Linked DNA regions of Homo sapiens: region 1 is linked to region 2. The links come from fine-mapping of genetic effects on gene expression. A gene starts in region 2. The other region holds a variant in brackets. All regions are shown on one strand. Distances are between the middles of the regions. Region 1 overlaps SMIM35 (small integral membrane protein 35). Region 2 holds the start of SMIM35 (small integral membrane protein 35).

Region 1 (9,420 bases), 23 kb before region 2:
CGCGCTCTAGGGGCTCCCTCAAGCCGTATCTACTCACATGCCTCTCCTCCAGGTCCCCCACCCATGTGGCCTGCCTAGAGTCTCTGCCCAGAGCCCAGACCACTCCCCATCCCACCACCTCTCAGGTGAACGGGGATGGGGTAGGAGGCTGTGGTCTTTCTCCCCTGACAAGAGTCTCAGCCCCACTTCCCATGCTGTGAGTGTGAGCACCCACTCCCACCTCCCCACACACCTCTTGCAATTATAATAGCTCTTGGTGCTAATGAAAGTGCTGGGAAATACAAAATCAGGTCTACTGGCATCGGAAGGCATGAGTCAGGGTTTTGCTGCAGTCTGTTTCGATTCAGCCTTTTCTTCCCAGGCCGGCAGCGAGGGCAGGACAGGGGCCAGGCAGCCCTGGGAAGCCTTAGTGGTGGAAACCCAGGGACAGCTGCCATGCTCACCTGGGAGACTGTCCTTGGCCGCCTTTCTTCTAGGCTTAGCATCCTGTGTTCCTCTGGACCCCCGGGGGTCTGGGAGAGCAACTGCAAATGGCTGTCTGGGACCCCCTTCTACAGAGTCCAGGGTGTCCCTCTGGCTGTTCCCCTCGCCACCCCTTCCTCTAATTCCCTGCCAGCTCCAGGTTCCCTGGAATGCTGGTTCTAATCTGGCTTCCAAGTCTCTCTTACCAGCCAGACATGGGTACTCCCATCATCCCTCCCACATGGCTGCCCTCATCCTTTGGATCCCCAGGCAGACACCCACCCTGGCCCCCTTTTAATTTTCCTTTTTTGATCTATAAGTAAGAGAGGGACAGAGAAAGCACTTCCAGGCTGCCCCTCTCCAGCCCTGTGACCTCACATCACAGTGTCCTGGTTGCAGGTTGAGGAACTCCAGTGGGAGGCGTCCAGGCCAGCAGAGGCTCCCAGAGGCACCGCTTCTGCTGAGTCACCCATTCTAGCATATGGTCGTGGCCCTGCTTGTTCCAAAACGGGACACCTTGCACTGCCACTCGTGACAGACACATGACACCCACAGTGGGAGTGATTGAGAGGCTATAGACAGGCCAAGGCGCAAGCCCAGCATCATTTTCAACCCCGCCTCTTCCAAGAAGGGAGGTGATTAAGACTCCAAGCTTCAGCTGCAGAGAGACCCAGCTTCAAACCCCAGTTCTGAGAGTGTTTCCCTGTAGGTGAAATGGAGAAAATAATGCCCACCTCACAAGATTGAAAAGATTGGATGATCGATTCACAGAAGGCATTTAGCAAGTTCTCCCTCAATAAGTGGCATTTCTAGCTACTTTTATGCCAATGTATTACATTTTTTAAGTAGTAAATTATTTCAGGGACTAGAGTGGCAGGTCCCCAGCTGGAGCTACCTTCTTCTTGGCATTAGTGCTCCAGGGAAGCAGAATCAGTAACTAAGTTACCAGACGAACACCGTCGGATCAAAGGAAGTGGGAGGGGTGGGGGATACTTCACCTGAGCCCTGGGAAAACCTCACAGATCCTGCTGGCCTCCACAGAGGCAACCTCTGTTAAGCAGAACCTGCTTATGTTCCCCACAGCCCTTCCTGCGACCTGGGCTGCTGGACACCGATTAGCTTGGATCTACGGGGCCCATTTCCTCTGCACCCAGGACCGCTCTTTGGTGACTCTTTCACTAGATATGATGCTAGACAGAGCCAGCATCAAGCCTCTGTCCCCATTATGAGTTGACTTCACAAAACCAACCCTCCCTGCTCAAGGGATTCCCACTTTTGCAGCCCACAGCAAAAGCATTGGCGTGTAAGTAACAATGCCACCTACCACATGGGGCAGAACCCCACCAACTGCCTCGGTCCAAGTTCATTACAACTCAGTCTCCCCTTGGAATTGGAAGGTCCTTGACCTCCCACCAACTAAGCTTCCAATTTTGTTTCATCAAAAATGAAAGTGGGGCCAGGTGCAGTGGCTCATCCTTGTAATCCCATCCCTTTAGGAGGCCAAGGCAGGTGGATCACCTGAGGTCAGGAGTTCAAGACCAGCTTGGCCAACATGGCGAAATCCCATCTCTACCAAAAATACAAAAATTAGCTGGGCGTGGTGGTGAGTGCCTGTAATCCCAGCTACTTGGGAGGCCGAGGCAGGAGAATCACTTGAACCCTGGTGGTGGAGGTTGCAGTGAGCCAAGACTGTGCCATTGCACCCCAGCCTGGGCAACAGAGCGAGACTCCATCTCAAAAACAAACAAACAAAAGTGGGTCAAGAGAGGCACCCCTGAGCTAATACATCAAGTCAGGCTTCCCTTCAGTTCACAGGGGCCAAGACCACAGGCCAGCCCAGCTCCTCTCCAGGCCCTGCTGGAAGGCTCCTTCCCGGCCAAAGCAAAGGTGACAACTGCCTCTGATGCTTCTCAAAGACCAGCTGGGAGTCAACAATGGAGACAGGTGGTTCACTTGGGCTCTGGCTTCTTCCATTTGCAACGGAGAACAGGGCATGTGGATGGGGAAAGAAGGAACCCAGGACAAGGGCTTCATCCCTCCCAACCCTCTCCTGGCCCTCCCTCCACACCCCTGCACCCTTGCCTTCTTTGTGTCTCTGAGTTTCTGCCTCTTCGTTGACTTCCATCTGTTTTTCTGTTGCCTCTTTTATTTTCTCTCTCTCTTAATTCTGTCAGAGGCATGTGAATCACAGCAATTCCAGCTTGAATAGGAGCTGGGTAAAATAAGGCTGAAACCTACTGGGCTGCATTCCCAGACAGTTAAGGTATTCTAAGTCACAGGAAGAGATAGGAGGTCAACACATGATACAGGTCATAAAGACCTTGCTGATAAAACAGGTTGCAGTAAAGGAGCTGGCCAAAACCCACCAAGACCAAGATGGCGACAAGAGTGACCTCTGGTCGTCCTCACTGCTGCACTCCCACCAGCGCCAAGACGGTTTACAAATGCCATGGCAAAGTCAGGAAGGTATCCTATTTGGTCTAAAAAGAAGAGGCATGAATAATCCACCCCTTGTTTAGCATATCATCAAGAAATAACCATAAAAATAGGCAACCAGCAGCCCTCGGGGCTGCTCTGTCTATGGAGTAGCCATTCTTTTATTCCTTTAGTTTCTTAATAAACTTGCTTTCCCTTTGCACCGCAGACTTGCCCTGAATTCTTTCTTGGGTGAGATCCAAGAACCCCCTCTTGGGGTCTGGATGGGGACCCCTTTCCTATAACACTTCTACTCTTCTTTCTGTTTCTTTCAGTTGATGATTTTCTGCTTACCTTTCTACTCTTTCTGTTTACTGTCTCTCTCGTCTGCATTTTTCTGTCTTTATTTCTAAATCTTCTTTACCCTCTTCATGTTGAATCTTTTTGCCTATTGTGGTAAATATATTTGGTCCTCAGCCCCATTTCCTGGCATACAACTCCTAAAGTCCTTAGAAACTCCAAAGGTTGTCTTTTTGTGTGCTAATGAGCTGACTGAGGCCTGGAAGGGCCTAGGTGGCTTCAGGTAGATCAGGGGCTGATCACCAGAAAGCCCAAGGCAGGATTAGAAGGTTGGGTTTTAAGCCCCACCCCTAAACTTAGGGGAGGGGAGAGGGGCTGGAGGGTAAGTTGATCACCAATGGCCCGTGGCTTAATTAATCATGCTTATGTAACGAAGTCTCCATAAAAGCCTAAAAAAGGACAGGTAGCTGAACAGGTGGAGGTTTCCAGAAGGGGACCCGACTCGGGAGGGCATGAAAGCCCCGTGTCCCTTACCCCATATCTCACCCTACGTATCTCTTCTTCTGTATCATTCGTAATATCCTTTATAGTAAACCTGTAAAGGTAAGTGTTCTCCTAAGTTCTCTGAGTCACTCCAGCAAATGAGGGAGTTGTGGGAACCCCAAATGAAGAACAATTGGCTAGAAGGTCCAGAGGCCTAGATTTGTAACTGGTGGGAAGGGAGTTGCGGTCTTGTGGCACTGAGCCCTCATCAACCATAGGATCTGTTGCTATCTGGTAGATAGTGTGGGAATTGAGTTGACTCGAAGTGTCAGCCAGTGTCTGCTGCAGAAATGATTGCTTACTGGTGTGTGGGGAGAACCCCCAGGCATTTGGTCACAGAAGTCTATTGCGTTGATGATTGTGGCGTGAGAACCAAGGGGAAAATTGAGTTTGAGTTTTTTCCTAACACACCAATCTATATCACTCTTCTTTTCTCTTGCAAAGAAAAAATTTTAAATGGGAGATCAGATAGGCACCAATCTGCCATTGATTTCATACACTGTGTTCCCCATCCACATGGACCCCAAGGTCCCACCGGAGGTTCAGGTTGGCGGTTCTGGGTGTCATCCTCAGAGTCATCACTAATACTAAAGGGTTTTGTTTGTTTTCTTTTTAAGAGAAGAAATCTCCCTATGTTGCCCAGGCTGGCTTCAAATTCCTGGGCTCAGGATATCCTCTTCCCTCAGCCTCCTGAGTAGCTGGGACTACAGGCATGTGCCATCGTGCCTGGCTTTTGTTATTGTTATTTGTCTGTTTTTTCAGGGGTGGAGATTTTTTGTTGTTTTTTTCATCACTATTATTATTATTATTGAGACAGGTTCTCGCTTTGTTGCCTAGGCTGGAGTGCAGTGGCAAGATCTTGGCTCACTGCAACCTCTACTTCCCGGGTCCGAGCCATCCTCCTACCTCAGCCTCCCAAGTAGCTGGGACTACAGGCATGTGCCACCACGCCTGGCTACTTTTTGTAATTTTTAGTAGAGATAGGGTTTCGCTATATCACCCAAGCTGGTCTCATATTTCTAGACTCAAGCGATATACCCGCCTGGCGGAATTGTGCTGGGATTACAGGCGTGAGCCACCATGCCCAGCCTTCATCACTAATATTAAACGCTAGCCTTCTCTGGGTCAAGCCCCGAGTGGGCTCTGAGTCAAGCACACCCTGCCCTGGAGTGATCCAGATATCCCAACTCAGAAATGACCAGATAAGGCCAGAATGCATATTCCTGTCCTAAAGCGTGGCCCTGTAGAGCCCTTCTGCGTGGTCAAACACCCGTCCCTCCCCAGCCTAGGCAGCTGCACAGCGCCCAAACCTGCCCTGCCCCACCTGCTTCTCCACTGCATTTCACTTTGCTTATCTCAGCATCCGATTACAGCAAGGACA[C/T]TCCCAGCCTAATCTGGCTTTCCCAAAGCTTTGGCCTAGAGCACCGTGAAGAGGTAGCCTTGTCACGTCCATGATGGCTCACAGGAGGAGGAAGACAGGGTACCTGCATTTTGAGTGGTTTTGCAAAAGTGAAATATAGAGAGTGATCATGAGGCAGGAGAATAGGGCCTGGAGGCAGGGAACCTAAGGCCAATTCATACTGACTTCCTAGAACTAAATCAAAAGGAAAACCCCAACTTTCACACCTTCCGTCGCTGGCCAACTTTTCTTTTGCATAGGAGTATAACTTTGTAACTTCACTTTAGCCTCTGGTCACTTTCCACAGGCGAATCAGACATTTGCATAGGGTGTAACTTTGTAACTTCACTTCAATCTCTGGTTGGTCTCTCTCCACAACCAATCAGACTGATTGTGGTCCTCTACTTCATTTACATAGGGTGTACACTAAGTAATCAATGGGAAACCTCTAGAGGGTATTTAAGCCCCAGAAAATTCTGTACCCAGTCCCTTGAGCTTCTTGTTCAGCCCACTCCCACCCTGTGGAGTGTGCTTTTGTTTTCATTAAATCTCTGCTTTTGTTGCTTCATTATTTTCTTGCTTTGTGCGTTTTGTCCAATTCTTTGTTCGAAGCACAAAGAATCAGGACACCCTCCACTGGTAACAATCAGGGTCTGATACCTGGGATGCAGCACCCAGTGACCAGGCTAGAATCAGGAGGTCTGGACAGAGGACACCATTACTGCCTGATTTACTCATCATGACCATGACCCAGCCCGCTCGCTCACCTGGGCCCTGCTGGGGAAGAGGGGGCTGCAGCCCCAAACCAGCCACAGGACCCCCCGGACGTACGACCTCCACCCAGGGCTCTCCCTGGCACCTCTGACTCAAACTGTTCAGTCCCAGACTCTTCACCTTTCTCCCCAAACCCACCTCTGTTTGCCACCTTGGTAGGTGGTACTATTATTTGCCTAATCCCCCAGACACCTGGAAATACCCCGGGATTGGATCTCTTCGCCCTTGTTTTCCAAATCTAGTCAGTCACCAAGTCCAACGTGCATGTGAAATTGCTCTGCCCTCCTGGCTGCCCTACCCTGGGTTTGGGATCTCATCTCTCACCTGGACCGCTGCATGAGTTCCCTACTATTCTCTCTACCCCAGGCTCTCCATCCACACAGCTACCAGAATGATCTTTCAAAATAAAACAAAAACAAACAAGTCATCCTCCTGCTTAAACTCCTACTGGCTCCTTATTACCTAGAGCTGTGGTCTCCAAAGTTCTTTGATCTCTGTCAGTAACAAAAGAATTTTAGCACACATCTCTAATATATGTATTTATGTATAAATTATATTTACATACATTACCATCACTAGCCAATATCTGAAGGCATAATACACCCTGAAAGACAGAGTAGTACTAACATCAGGAGACTTGAGACTATACTTCAAATTATCTTAGCCGGGCATGGTGGCATGCCTGAGTCCCAGCTACTCAGGAGGCAAAAGGATCACTTGAACTGAGGAGATCAAGACTGCAGTGAGTCGTGATCCTGCCACTGCACTCCAGCCTGGGTGACAGAGTGAGACCTTGACTTAAAAAAAAAAAAATCAAAACATTATCTTGATAATTCTGGATTTTTTTTTTTGCCAGTTTCTATCAAGTAAAATGAGATTGTTACAATTTTACACTCAAGATAGAAAGATAATGGGAGCCCCTTCCGAATAGGGGAGCAAGAGCCTGGCCATTTGCTTGTGCTTGCCTGCATCCTTCTCTTAATCCCTGATATCTTTTCAGGAAATTTCCTAAATACCTTGTCCATTGTGTGAGGATTAATTTAGTTAAAACCAGATGAGATCACCGAGAAATCCACTTCACAGACCATGTGTAAACATGTCACAATATGCTAACCCCCTCAGACCCTCGCAGATGCGCACAACATGTGGGCCATTGACACAGGGTCCAAGTGCAGACACGAGGCCAACCTGTACATTAAATATTACAAATGCACCAGGTGCGGTGGCACGTGCCTGTAGTCACAGCTACTCGGGAGGCTGAGGCAGGAAGATCATTTGAGTCCTCACTTGAGTTCTGGGCCTCGGTTTGCTATGCTCATCAGGTGTCCACACTAAGTTCAGCATCAATATGGTGACCTCTTAGGAGCAGGGGGCCACCTGGTTGCCTAAGGTAGGGTGAACTGGCCCAGGTGGGAAATGGAGCACCTCAAAACTCCCGTGCTGATCAGTAGTAGGATCATGCCTGTGAATAGCCACTGCACTCCAGCCTGGGCAGCATAGCGATACCCTGTCTCTTAAAAAAAAATTGGCTGGGTGCAGTGACTCATGCCTGTAATCCCAGCACTTTGGGAGACCAAGGCAGGCGGATCACCTGAGGTCAGGAGTTCAAGACCAGCCTGGCCAAGATGGTGAAACCCCGTCTCTACTAAAAATACAAAAAATTAGCCAGGTGTGGTGGTGCGCCTATAGTTCAACTTCTCGGGAGGCTGAGGTGGGAGAATCGCTTGAACCCGGGAGATGGAGGTTGCAGTGAGCCGAGATCACGCCATTGCACTCCAGCTTGGGCAACAGGAGTGAAACTCCATCTCAAAAAACAACCACAAAACAACAACAAACATATATATATATATATATATATATATATATATATATATATATATATGAAAAGTTTAGTTGTTTTCTTTGTTTTTAGTTAAGAAATACACAGAAATAGAAGTTTCTCTATTTTTTCGCTATCCCAATGGTTTGTCTTGCATAATTTCTGGGTACAAGAACTCTAGTTTAGGGGCTTCCAGTACATAAGGTCTGTGTCCAAATTCCTTACCTGTGTACAGATCCTTCAAAAGAAAATGTCTATTGCAAGAGTTTCTCATAACTGGAGCCATGTATGATTCATCTCCCCGGTCCCAGCACCAAGCTGCCACAGAAAGGATGCTCAGTATCTGTGGGTCAGTCACCATTTCCCCAGCGCACACAGCCTCCTCTCTGGACTGGATGCTCTTCCTCCCATTGCACCCCTGGTTTTCCACCTGACAAAGTCCTGCTCCTCCCCGTAAGCTCAATCCAAATGCTCCCTCCTCGGGGAGGGAGCCCTCCGGCTCTGTGTGCTCTTTCCTCTTAGAGTTTGCCAACAGGATGACAGCACGATCTCTGTGTCGAGTCTCCCTCCCGGCCTGTGAAAGAGCTGCGGACAGCGCCTTATTCATCTTTGTGTCCTCAGTGTCCAGCACACTAGAGGCGCTCGTAAACGTTGGATGAAGGAGAGGCTTTTACAGAGACGGGGGTGAGGCCAAGAGACAGTCTGGGCCCAAAGATTTCAGTTTCAAGAACTTTCATTCTCAGCCTGAACCCACCCCTCTGCAGGCAGCCTGGGGAATGAGCTGGGGCAAGGATGAAGGAGGGAGGCTGAGGGAGGGTGAGCCAGGATGGTACCTGCATGTGGAACCTCACAGCGCTGTTTCCTGCTGGCCTTTCAGGCTGCAGATGAAATCTACTGGGAAAAGCGAGAAACCCGGGGTAGCGGAGTGACCTTCCACCACCTGGCGGCACTGTGTCTGCATTCTCGGCCACCCCACAGAGGCCCAGCGGCATCCAGGAGCCGTGGTCTCTCCCCACGCATCACTCCGTGGCCAGAAGCACTCAGTCAAGCCAGAGCCACCAGCATTATCAATACATTATCATCCGTGGGATTTGGCAAGGCCTAACCACGACGATCTAAAAGCATTCTCTCTTCCAACAGGTTCAACCCAAAGAACTCATTTGTTAACGGACCACCATTGACTCATCACCCTAATGGAAAACTGAATCATCCCCAGGTCTTCCCCCCGTCAGTCCTCTCTATTCTGCATCAGCAGCATCTGTGAATGCCAGCACCCCAGCATCCCACACTGCACCTGTGCTCTGGGTCTGCCTGCCAAGTACAGGCTGTGAGGTATCGGGCCACCCCCTCAGTTCCCTCATCTGTAAGATGGGAACATCAACACTTTGTTTGCAAGGTTATTAGATATCTTATATATGCACAACACAGAGTAGAATGTCAGTAAATAATATTCGTCTTCCTTTTCTTCGTCTTCATGCCGGTAGACCAGGCCTTAATTAAGATCTTCTCCATCTCTTGCCTGAACTATTGGCACTGTCTCTAACCCCCTCTCCCTGCCTCGCCCCCACACTACTGCCAGAATTATCTTCCTCTGTGGCAGGAGTTATGTTTTAAACCAAAGTCACTCTACCAACATTTACACACCTTTCGTTTGCCAGTCACTGTGCTGGTGCCACAGATATAAATAAAGGAGAGATCTCCCAGGGAG
Region 2 (9,420 bases):
CAAATTACCAGGAGACCATTAACGATAGAAAATTGATTTAAAGAGAGAATATTATAAGTGGATCAGGCCTAGGACTAATCCTATCTGTGGGAGGAGACAAGAGAAATTTCAGGCTGAGAGTGAGCTCTTCAGAATCACAGACCCTAAGGAAAAACCTTAGAGGTCTTCTCGGCGAGTGGGTTCCCCAAGCGTACTTTGACCTCAGAGCCTTTAGCTCCACTGAAATCAAATGCAGAATCCTCGTATGGGACACAGAGAGAAAAACAGAGCTGCAGTGTTTGAAAGGACTGTCCCCCACCCCCGCCACTTCTGCCCTGCCTCCCTCTCCTCTGCTGCGCCGCTGCGGGGCTCGGTCGAATCCCCCAGGGGTGCTCAGAGCCCTTATCTGACCCTGGCCCTCGTCTGCCACAGAAACCTTCACAATCCAGCTTTTGCTCACACATCTGTTTCTAGAAGCTACGGTTGCTGAAAACAATCTTTCCTTTGCCAGGAGAAAAGACTTTCTGTAACTTCCCCCGTTCCTCCTAGAACTGTCTTTTGCCTTTCTCAGACGGCCACACACACTTGAAGCTTTCATGCTTCCACTGGTCCTTGCTTCTCTGAACTGCGTGTTCCACCCTCTCTTCCGAGAGAGTTCACACAGGTCACACGACATCACCTCCGGTCCCAACTGCCCTGGTCACTGTCCCCAGATGCGCTTAGTCCACAGAGTCCCCTGCTGAAGCCAAGCCCCGGGGCCCATGAAATCATAAAAGTCGCTCTTTGCTCAGTTCCTATTACATACATGACAGGCCCTCTATGAAGCTCCTTCCCATTAACAATAAATAATTTTTGACTATGAGTATCTACTATGTCATGAACTTCCCAAGTTCTATTTTAATATTGTTATTAATAACTAATAAAAATAATAGAATATACTCCATGGGCAAAAGAGCTTTACCTCTGGTTCACTGCTAGGTCTCCAGGGCCCAGAAAGTTGCCTTACTAAATGAGTAAACTATTATTGTTGTTGTTATTATTATTACAGTTAACAATTACTGTACTCTTGGCTGGGTGCAGTGGCTCACACCTGTAATCCCGCTTTGGGAGGCCGAAAAGGGCAGATCACATGAGGTCAGGAGTTCAAGACCAGCCTGGCCAACATGGTGAAAGTACAAAAAATTAGCTGGGCGGTGGTGGCAGACGCCTGTAATCCCAGCTACTCTGGAGGCTGAGCCAGGAGAATCGCTTTTACCTGGGAGGTGGTGGTTGCAGTGAGCCGAGACAGCGCCACTGCACTCCAGCCTGGGCAACAGAGCGAGACTCCATCTCAAAAACAAAACAAAAAAACAATTATCGTACTCTTACCGTGCACCAGGCAATGTACTATATGCTATGCATATCTGGGGCTCCTTAGGAGGGAGACTTACTGCATCTCTCTTTCTCTCTCTCCCTCTTTTTCACACACACATGAAACTGAGTTTCTTGGTGGTTCAATAACTTGCTAAAGCCTCAGGCCAATGAGCAAACAGGATTCAGACCTAGGCTGCAGGATTCCACGGCCTGTGCTCTGTGCACTGTAAAACACAACCTCTCCTAGCAAATGTAATTTCAGCAAGGAAAAACTTCATGAAGCACTCGACGAGTTATGTGAGTGGGCAGGAAAGCAGTAAAGGAACTTCAGGTTATGCAACTGCAAAGTCAGAGAGGCAGAGAAGACACTGAAGCACTATTAAAGCACTATTTATAGGATCCTGAGCTCAGAGTTCACAGGAAACAGATCTAGGAGTCACTGAAACCTGTGCCAGGAGATTGGCTGCAGCAGCCACACCAGCCCAGCAAGGCTGGTTATCACTGGGGCCTCCAGAACAAACGAGAATCCTCAACCCTGCCCCTGTACAGAACCACAGCACAGACCCTCCTTGAACATGTGTGGAGTTCTGCTCTCCATGCCTGTAGGGTAATTGGGGCAGAGAGCACTAATTTTCACTTACTAAACTCCTCTATGTTTCAAGCACCAAGCCAGGCACATCACATGTGTCATCAATAATTCTCACCAACAACCCTGTGAATTAAGTCATATTCTCCCCATTTTACAGATGAGAAAACTGAGACTCAGAAAAATTTATTAACTTGCTCAAGACTTCATGGCTGGGAAGAGGCAGAGCTGGATTCAGGCCAGTGTCCCTGCCTCAGAGTTCAGGAGGAGCAGGATCAAGGGACAACCCCCTTCTGATCAAGGCAGCTGAGACCCCTCAAACTGCAAAGACCAACCTAGGGGACTATGAGCAAGTCTGTAAAATCATGCAAAGACCAGATGGGGCTCCTGGGGGCTTGCAAAGGTGCTGAAAATGTGCACGGTGCTGAGCAGGTGGCGCACCTTACAGAATCTTTCTCCCCATCATCTTGTGAAGTCGCTTTTATTGTACCCACATTCCAAAGAAGGAAACTGGGTCCAGGAGCTGTTTAGTGACTTGCTCAAAAGTTGTTCTACAGATGGAGGAGTCAGATCTTCTTCTTCTTTTTTTTTTTTTTTGAGACAGAGTCTAACACTGTTGCCCTGGCTGGAGTACAGTGGCAGGATCTTGGCTCACTGCAACCTCCGCCTCCCAGGTTCAAGCGATTCTCCTGCCTCAGCCTCCCGAGTAGCTGGGATTACAGGCACCTGCCACCACGCCCAGCTAATTTTTTGTATTTTTAGTAGAGATGGGGTTTCACTATGTTGGCCAGGCTGGTCTCAAACTCCTGGCTGGAGTCAGTCCCAATCAGTTCCTTTTCCCTCCCTGCCATTTCCCTCCCTCTTAAAGTTTAAAGGACAACTCAGGACAAGCAAAAGTGAGTACGATTCTTGAAAGATGGTATAAACTCTGTCTTTGAACCTTTTTAAATTAACGTCAGACTGCTCCATGGATGGCAGGTCCTCAGTTCAGGTAAATTGCAAGGTTGAGAGAACCCCTCTAAGCTTTAAAATCCATCAGCCCTTCCCAATGGCAAACCCATGAGGGTCCCTGCCAGGCTGAAAGGCTGAACTGTGTGGCGGGACCCCTTCTGGCCCTCTCGAGTCCCCTCCAGCCATTGTCCAGGCATTGTCCTCAGGTGTGCAAAGATGGTGGCACCTTCCTTCCTATCAGACCCTTCCAGGAGGGGAAGGTGGGCTCAGATGGACCCACCACTCTGGAACAGAGGGAAAGCTGAGCAAAGTAGAGCTGTTGAGAGTTCAGAAAGGTGGGAGAGAATGGGCTGCTTCCCCTAGGACAAAGAGAAGGATCGCAGAGGGATTCCTAAGCACTGCAGTAAACAGCAGCATCACCTGGAAGCAGGGCCCTCCAGTGGGAACCAGGTCTGTCTTCAGTTTAATTTAGCCCAAGGGGCATGTACAAATACCTCACTCCTGCCCTTCACATTGTCTCTGGGGAAAAAGCATAAGCGCTGTGCCTCAGTTTCTCCATTTGTGAAATAGGAATAGTTACATCTTCCCTGCCTCCCCAGCCCTATCTGAACCTAAGAGCTATGCCCGAACACAAAAGCTGATTCTTAAATGATGGGAGCTGAACAGCAGGCTGGCAGGGGATAATGGCAGGCTGCCTGACTCCTCCCTTCTGCCCCAGGCCCTGCCCTGGAGCCATTATGTGCTGAGATGGGGGATGAGGTGCTCGGCTCAAATTGCCAATAGGTCAGCACCTATGTGGTTTAGAACAAGGCAAAATGGTTTCTAATGTAGCAGCCAAGGCTGAGGTTAGACCCAAAGGAAAAAGTGCTGCTCTAATAATGACTCAACGCAAGGCAGTGTTTGTGAGGATGCTCCCTGAATTTCTGCGTGAGAGCTTAGATGCCCAGCGGCATATGGCCTGGGCTGGTGGCCGACCTGCCTAGAGACAGAGTAACAGGTGCGATCCCAGGATACTTGGAAGTCGGCATGATCAGTCATCTCTGAGGACCTCCCATGCACTCTGGGCTGCTGCATCACCACCAGGCTCATCTCAGGAAACTCACTCCCTCCTCTCCTGCCCCATGATCTTCCAGCCCTCAGTGACCCTCTCCTTACCTGTCATGGCTGAGACATCCAAGAGAGAGAGCCCTGTTGCCAGCGCAGCAAAGGCATCAAACTGCCTATTCCAGCTGCAAGTGGAGAGGACACAGCTGCTTGCCGTTGGTTTTGGGGAGGGATGCAGGTTCTGGGGTCAGAGAGCAGAGTGAGGCTCCCTCAGAGGAGCACTGTGGCCGGGCCCCACTCTGCAAGCTGACGGCAAGCACCTCTGGGTCTCTTGGCTTACCCGAAGAACTTTCCCCACCCCCTCCCTTGGGTTTTCCCCACTGCTTATTACTGGCCTCAGCAACCTAACTGCCACCTGCCCAAGCCTCAAAGGACCTGTTTATCCCATCACCTAGCAACAGCACCATCTCTGGCTCTAGGTTTTCCTATGAGACCATGGGAAGCCAGGGCCTTGGACTCCAGGGAAGACTGAAGCTGTCACCCTCTTTTGTGTGCCCCTGCTTTTCTCTCTTTGTCCACACTCCAGTCATTCCAGCTCTGCCCTTACTGACTTCTTTCCAGAGCAAGTCAATGCCAAGTCAGCATTGCAGAGAGGAAGAGAGAAATCAGGCCCCAGGGACAGGATGCTTGGCAAGGGAGGCAGACAGGAGCTGGCCGAGCTTTCTGTTCCTTTGGCCTCCTTGAGCTGCCGCCTCTTCTTCCTCTCCTTATTAGCCTGGTGGACTTGCCTGTTTCATTATGAGGTTATTAACTCTTTCATCCCATCTCTGAAGGGCAGTTCCCAATTACCCAAAGGGATCTTGAGGTTCAGAGACATTGAGGAGTGTGCCCAAAGCCACACAGCAAGTCAGAAGACAAGGCAAGATGAGAACTCATACTCTCCAGGCTGGTGGCTTCTCTGCAGCACACTTTGTGGCTTCTCTGCAGCCACTTAAGCTTCACTCCATTTAAAAACAAGAGCTGCCTTGTATCTGGGTTCATTCTCTCTGAGCTGGAAAGGAAGTTGACCTTAAGATGTCTGTTTGCTTTTTGGAGCTGAGCTAAGCCCAACCAGGAGGTTCCCCATGATCTAAAACAGTGGTAGGGGTGGGGAATAGGAATAAAGGAAGAAGAGGCAGGTGAGAAAGGTGGGAACTTATGGAAGAAAGGGAAGAACAAATGCTAATATCAATAAAGCCCCTCCTGGGAACCAAGCCCTGCAATAGGCCCCTTTCCCAACATGCTCTTTGAGGTCTCTTGACCGCATTCATGGATGATATGGCAGAGCCCAGAACTGAGCAAAGTCACTCTACCTTCACACCGAGGAAGAGCTGGAGAGATGCTGGGGGCAATCTCTGCATGATGACTGCATGCTGGTTATATCCAACAAGGCTGCATTGCAAGGGAGGAGTGATTCAAAAGGACCCAGCACCAGCTAATGACTGTTACCGAAATGAGTTCCTGAAACCATGGGGAAATGAAATCAACAGTCCACCAAGTCCAGAAACCCGGCCCAAAGGGCTAGATCTGTTCCTTACTTGCTCCGAAGCCATAGCAGCTGCCTTTTCTGTAAAATGGGGACAATTTCTCAGGGTTGTTCCATGGATTATATAGGACAGCATTTATGAAAGAAAGACATCGTAAATTATATAATAATACTCAACTGCAATAACTAATGGTTCTGCCTCCATATTTGGGTCTTGGATTAATGTCTTCCTCTGCCGGTGACAAACCGAGAAGCAGGAAAAGAAGATTCTCTGAGTTGATCAGGCAATGGCAGGTTTTCCAGTGATTGAACACCCACCCACTTCCACCTCCCCACCTCACCCGCTACCTGGGCCCTGGGGGCCTGGGCATTCTTGCCCTTCCACTGTACTGCACACAGCAGGAGCTTCATTCCCGGATGAGCCCCAGGTCAGACACTGGCTGGGCTGGACCCATGAGTCAGGGCTCTGCGGCAGACTGAATCAACAGAGAAGACAGGCCTGGCCCAGCCAGTGGCCCAAACAGAAAGGGAAAGGCCAATGCCTTTGCTTGGTCTGGGCTGGGCCGGGGCTGTAACAGTTGTAGGCAGAAGCTGAGTTCAAGCTGGGGGTAAATAAATACATCTCCAGCAAAGCAGAAGGAAGCACATGTGTTGTTTGGTGACCTCTCAACTTCCTCCTTCCCTCTATTAACTCCAGGTTAAGACAATTCTATCCGACCTCTGTTTTCTCATCTGAAAATAAGGAAGTTGCCTTGTTTCAGCTTTGCATCTTCTGATCATGGCGGGGACCCACCATGGTGATGGGGTCTGGCTGGATCTCTGAATTTTACCTGGTACCCACATCTCTCAGACCCATTCTCTCCTTTCCTTAGCTCAGGATTGTTGCTTCTGGGCTCAGAGGAGATGCAGCTGGCCATAAGTCCCTATTTCTATCCTGCTCAGGGATGTCATCGACATTGATGGCCCCCAGTTGACACTCACAGGCCTAAAATGCACCTACCTCCCTGCCCATGAGCCCCAGTACTCGTGACCTTCTGCAGCTCCTCTTCCAAAGGTGTATCTGTCCATCAGCTCTGACCTGTCTGTGTCACAGATATTTGCCAAAGAGCTTCAAGAAAAGCCAAAGAATGAGCTACTCATGGGGAAACTCAGGCAGCACAACAGTAAGGGCAGAGCATGGTGAGGACATGAGTTTGACCTCCTCAAGCCACTCAGCATAGCCAGGTGATGGCTTTTTTATGTTTTCCTTGAGCCTTGGGTGCATAGCATTGGGGGAACTAGAATCCTTGCTTCATGACTTTTTTCACTATTGGTCCATGCAGGGCCCATTTGTAACTTGCTAGTTAGTTGGATTTAACAATGTAATAAGCCTCCATAAACCCATCATCCCCAACAAAAGCTGGACTTAATAGTAACCTACATCTAACCATGAGGTTCCCACTCCTGCACACACATATCCATCCCTCTCCTGAGGTGGGTAGAGCAAGTGTCTTTCGTTTATTAATTCGACAAATATTGGCTATACATATTTGATAGGCAGGGACTGTACTACAAGCTCCCTGCCCAAGTAAGTTCTTCCCAAACCCCATATTCATCATTCCCTTGCTTCTCTATAGAAAAGATTCTGTGCTATATGTAATCTTTTGGGACTAAGTTTTTCCCTTAATATTACATTCTAATATCATCCTTATTATTATTTTGAGATGGAGTGTTGCTCTGTCCCCCAGGCTGGAGTGCTGTGGCACCATCTCACTCACTGCAACCTCCCCTCCCGGGTTCAAGGGATTCTCCTGCCTCAGCCTTCTGAGTAGCTGGGATTACAGGCGCGTGCCACCACACCTGGCTAATCTTTGTATTTTTAGTAGAGACAGGGTTTCACCATGTTGGCCAGGCTGGTCTCGAACTCCTGACGTCAGATCCACCCGCCTCAGCCTCCCAAAGTGCTGGGATTACAGGTGTAAGCCACCGTACCTGGCCCCATCCATATTATTTTGTGTCACTACAGTTCATTTGTTTTGACTGCAGCCTAATATGTCACTGTGTGAATATACCAGTCAGGTTCGTAAAGACTGAGCTGAGGCTGAGTCCTCAAACTGAGATATTTTCATTAATTCTTTCATTCAACAAATATTTTTTCAATACTCATTATGTACTGTGCATTGTAGGAGACATCAGGGATATCACAGTTAACAAGATAGTCACAGTCCCTGTCATTCTAGCTTACGGTTTTGCTTTAGTTTATTTTTTCTTTCTCTCTTTTGGTTTCAAACAGGGATAGAATTTTTTTCCACAACTACTACTCAGTGAATAGCAATTGAAAACATATTAAGAGCCAGGCATTGTGGCTCACACCTGTAATCCCAGAACTTTGGGAGGCTGCGGTGGGCAGATCATTTGAGTCCAGGAGTTCGAGACCAGCCTGGGCAATACAGTGATACCTCATCTCTACGAAAAAAAAAAAAAAATAGCTGGGCGTGATGGTGCATGCCTGTAGTCCCAGCTACTCAGGAGACTGAGGTGGGAGGAGCCCTTGAGCGCAGGAGGTGGAGGCTGCAGTGAGCTGAAATCACAACATTGCACTTCAGCCTGGGCGACAGAATGAGACTCTGTCTCTCTCTCTTTCTTTCTCTCTCACTCTGTCACACACACACACACAAACACACACACACACACACACACACACAAAATTAGCCACTGTTCAGTTCAGTGATGAGGAATCCAAGGCCCCAGAAAGTGCAGAATATAAGCCTCCTTTGTGCCTCAGCTTCTAGCACTATTCCGGGTCCATCAAAGTTGTATAGTCAATATTTGTTAAATTAACAATAAACAAAAGAAACTTGCCCTACCTACCTCAATGAATGCAGGCATGCATGCACAGGTAGACTCAGTGGAAAAGAATGAATTGACAGGAAAGGGCCCACTTCCCTGCTCCACCAACCACTCTTATAGCCTCCCACAGCTCAGCAAGCACCCTCTCACCCACGTAACTAAAACCCAAGCACACCCAATCCATCGGCGAGGCCTATTGTTTGTATCTTCCAAACACATTTGGCGTCTTTTTACCACCAACCTCCTCTCTCCTTATGCCCTTGCCTTGCTCCAGCCATGCCCATCTCTATTCAGTTCCTCCAACCCCCCAAGCTTGTTCCTTCCCACTTGGCTCCTTCTTGTCACCTCCTCTAGGGAGACCAGCAAGATCCTCCGTAACCATCCTGAGCCCCTCCCTAGAGCTCCCATTCTCAGTCTGCATCCAGGCGCTGTCTCCTCTCACCCTGGATTACTCCCTGCATAGCACCTACCCCTCTCTGATCTTTTCTGGTTTATCTGTTTATGGCCTGTCCTCCCCCTTCCCCTAGCCCTCCTCTCCACCAAGAAACAAGCTTCTTGGGGACAGACCCTCGGCTGTCTTCTTTGGGCACTATTTTCCCCATCTTGCTGGGATGATTTCTTGATCTGTCTTTGAATCCTCCTGGAGTAGTGCCTGGTACAATGTAGATGCTTTACAAGCATTTGTTTAGTTTAATAATTAATTCTTTAATGCTGCCCATCCTGGTTGGCAGACAATTGATATCGACTTGACTAGACAAGAGTTAGATGAAAGGACTTTGTAAACTGTTACATGCCAGTTGGGTGTGAATTACTGTTGACGTTATCCTAACTTGACTCTAGCTGCAACAATGCAGAGTCGTCCGATTGGGTCTCATCTTCAGCCTGGAAAGAGTCTGCTCTATCCAGCCCTGGTGATGGTGGAGGAGAGACGGCCGGGAATGAACTACAATGCAGAGCTCAAAGTTCAGTCCAGTTCACAGTCATTTATTAAGTTTTTACTAGGTACTAGCCTGGTGCTAAACAGCAAGGGTACAAAGGCAATGAGAAAGAGTGGCTAATTAAAAATAAAATGTTAAATTTAAAAAAGCAACCAAAAAGAAAGAAAAAAGGAAAGGAAACGCTGACCACCCTATGAGAGAAGCCCTGTGATAAA

What was found. PIP is the estimated chance that this variant, and not a neighbour inherited with it, causes the effect.
Region 1: its variant is fine-mapped to the expression of SMIM35 in whole blood (INTERVAL, PIP above 0.99).

The regions. Positions count from the first base shown.
Region 1 is chr11:118,060,132-118,069,551 of GRCh38, forward strand. The region is part of intron 1 of SMIM35 (small integral membrane protein 35); the gene reads right to left. It also overlaps the pseudogene RN7SL828P. Among named protein-coding and RNA genes, the nearest start is that of TMPRSS4, 12 kb to the right of the region's middle. RefSeq lists an enhancer at 4,461-4,962. The variant C/T (reference allele first, on the strand shown) is at 5,102.
Region 2 is chr11:118,082,727-118,092,146 of GRCh38, forward strand. SMIM35 (small integral membrane protein 35) reads right to left here and starts at 4,237. Exons shown (of 5, transcript NM_001394165.1): 1 at 4,025-4,237. The coding sequence starts at 4,031. All of the region lies in intron 1 of TMPRSS4 (transmembrane serine protease 4), which reads left to right. RefSeq lists a silencer at 468-762.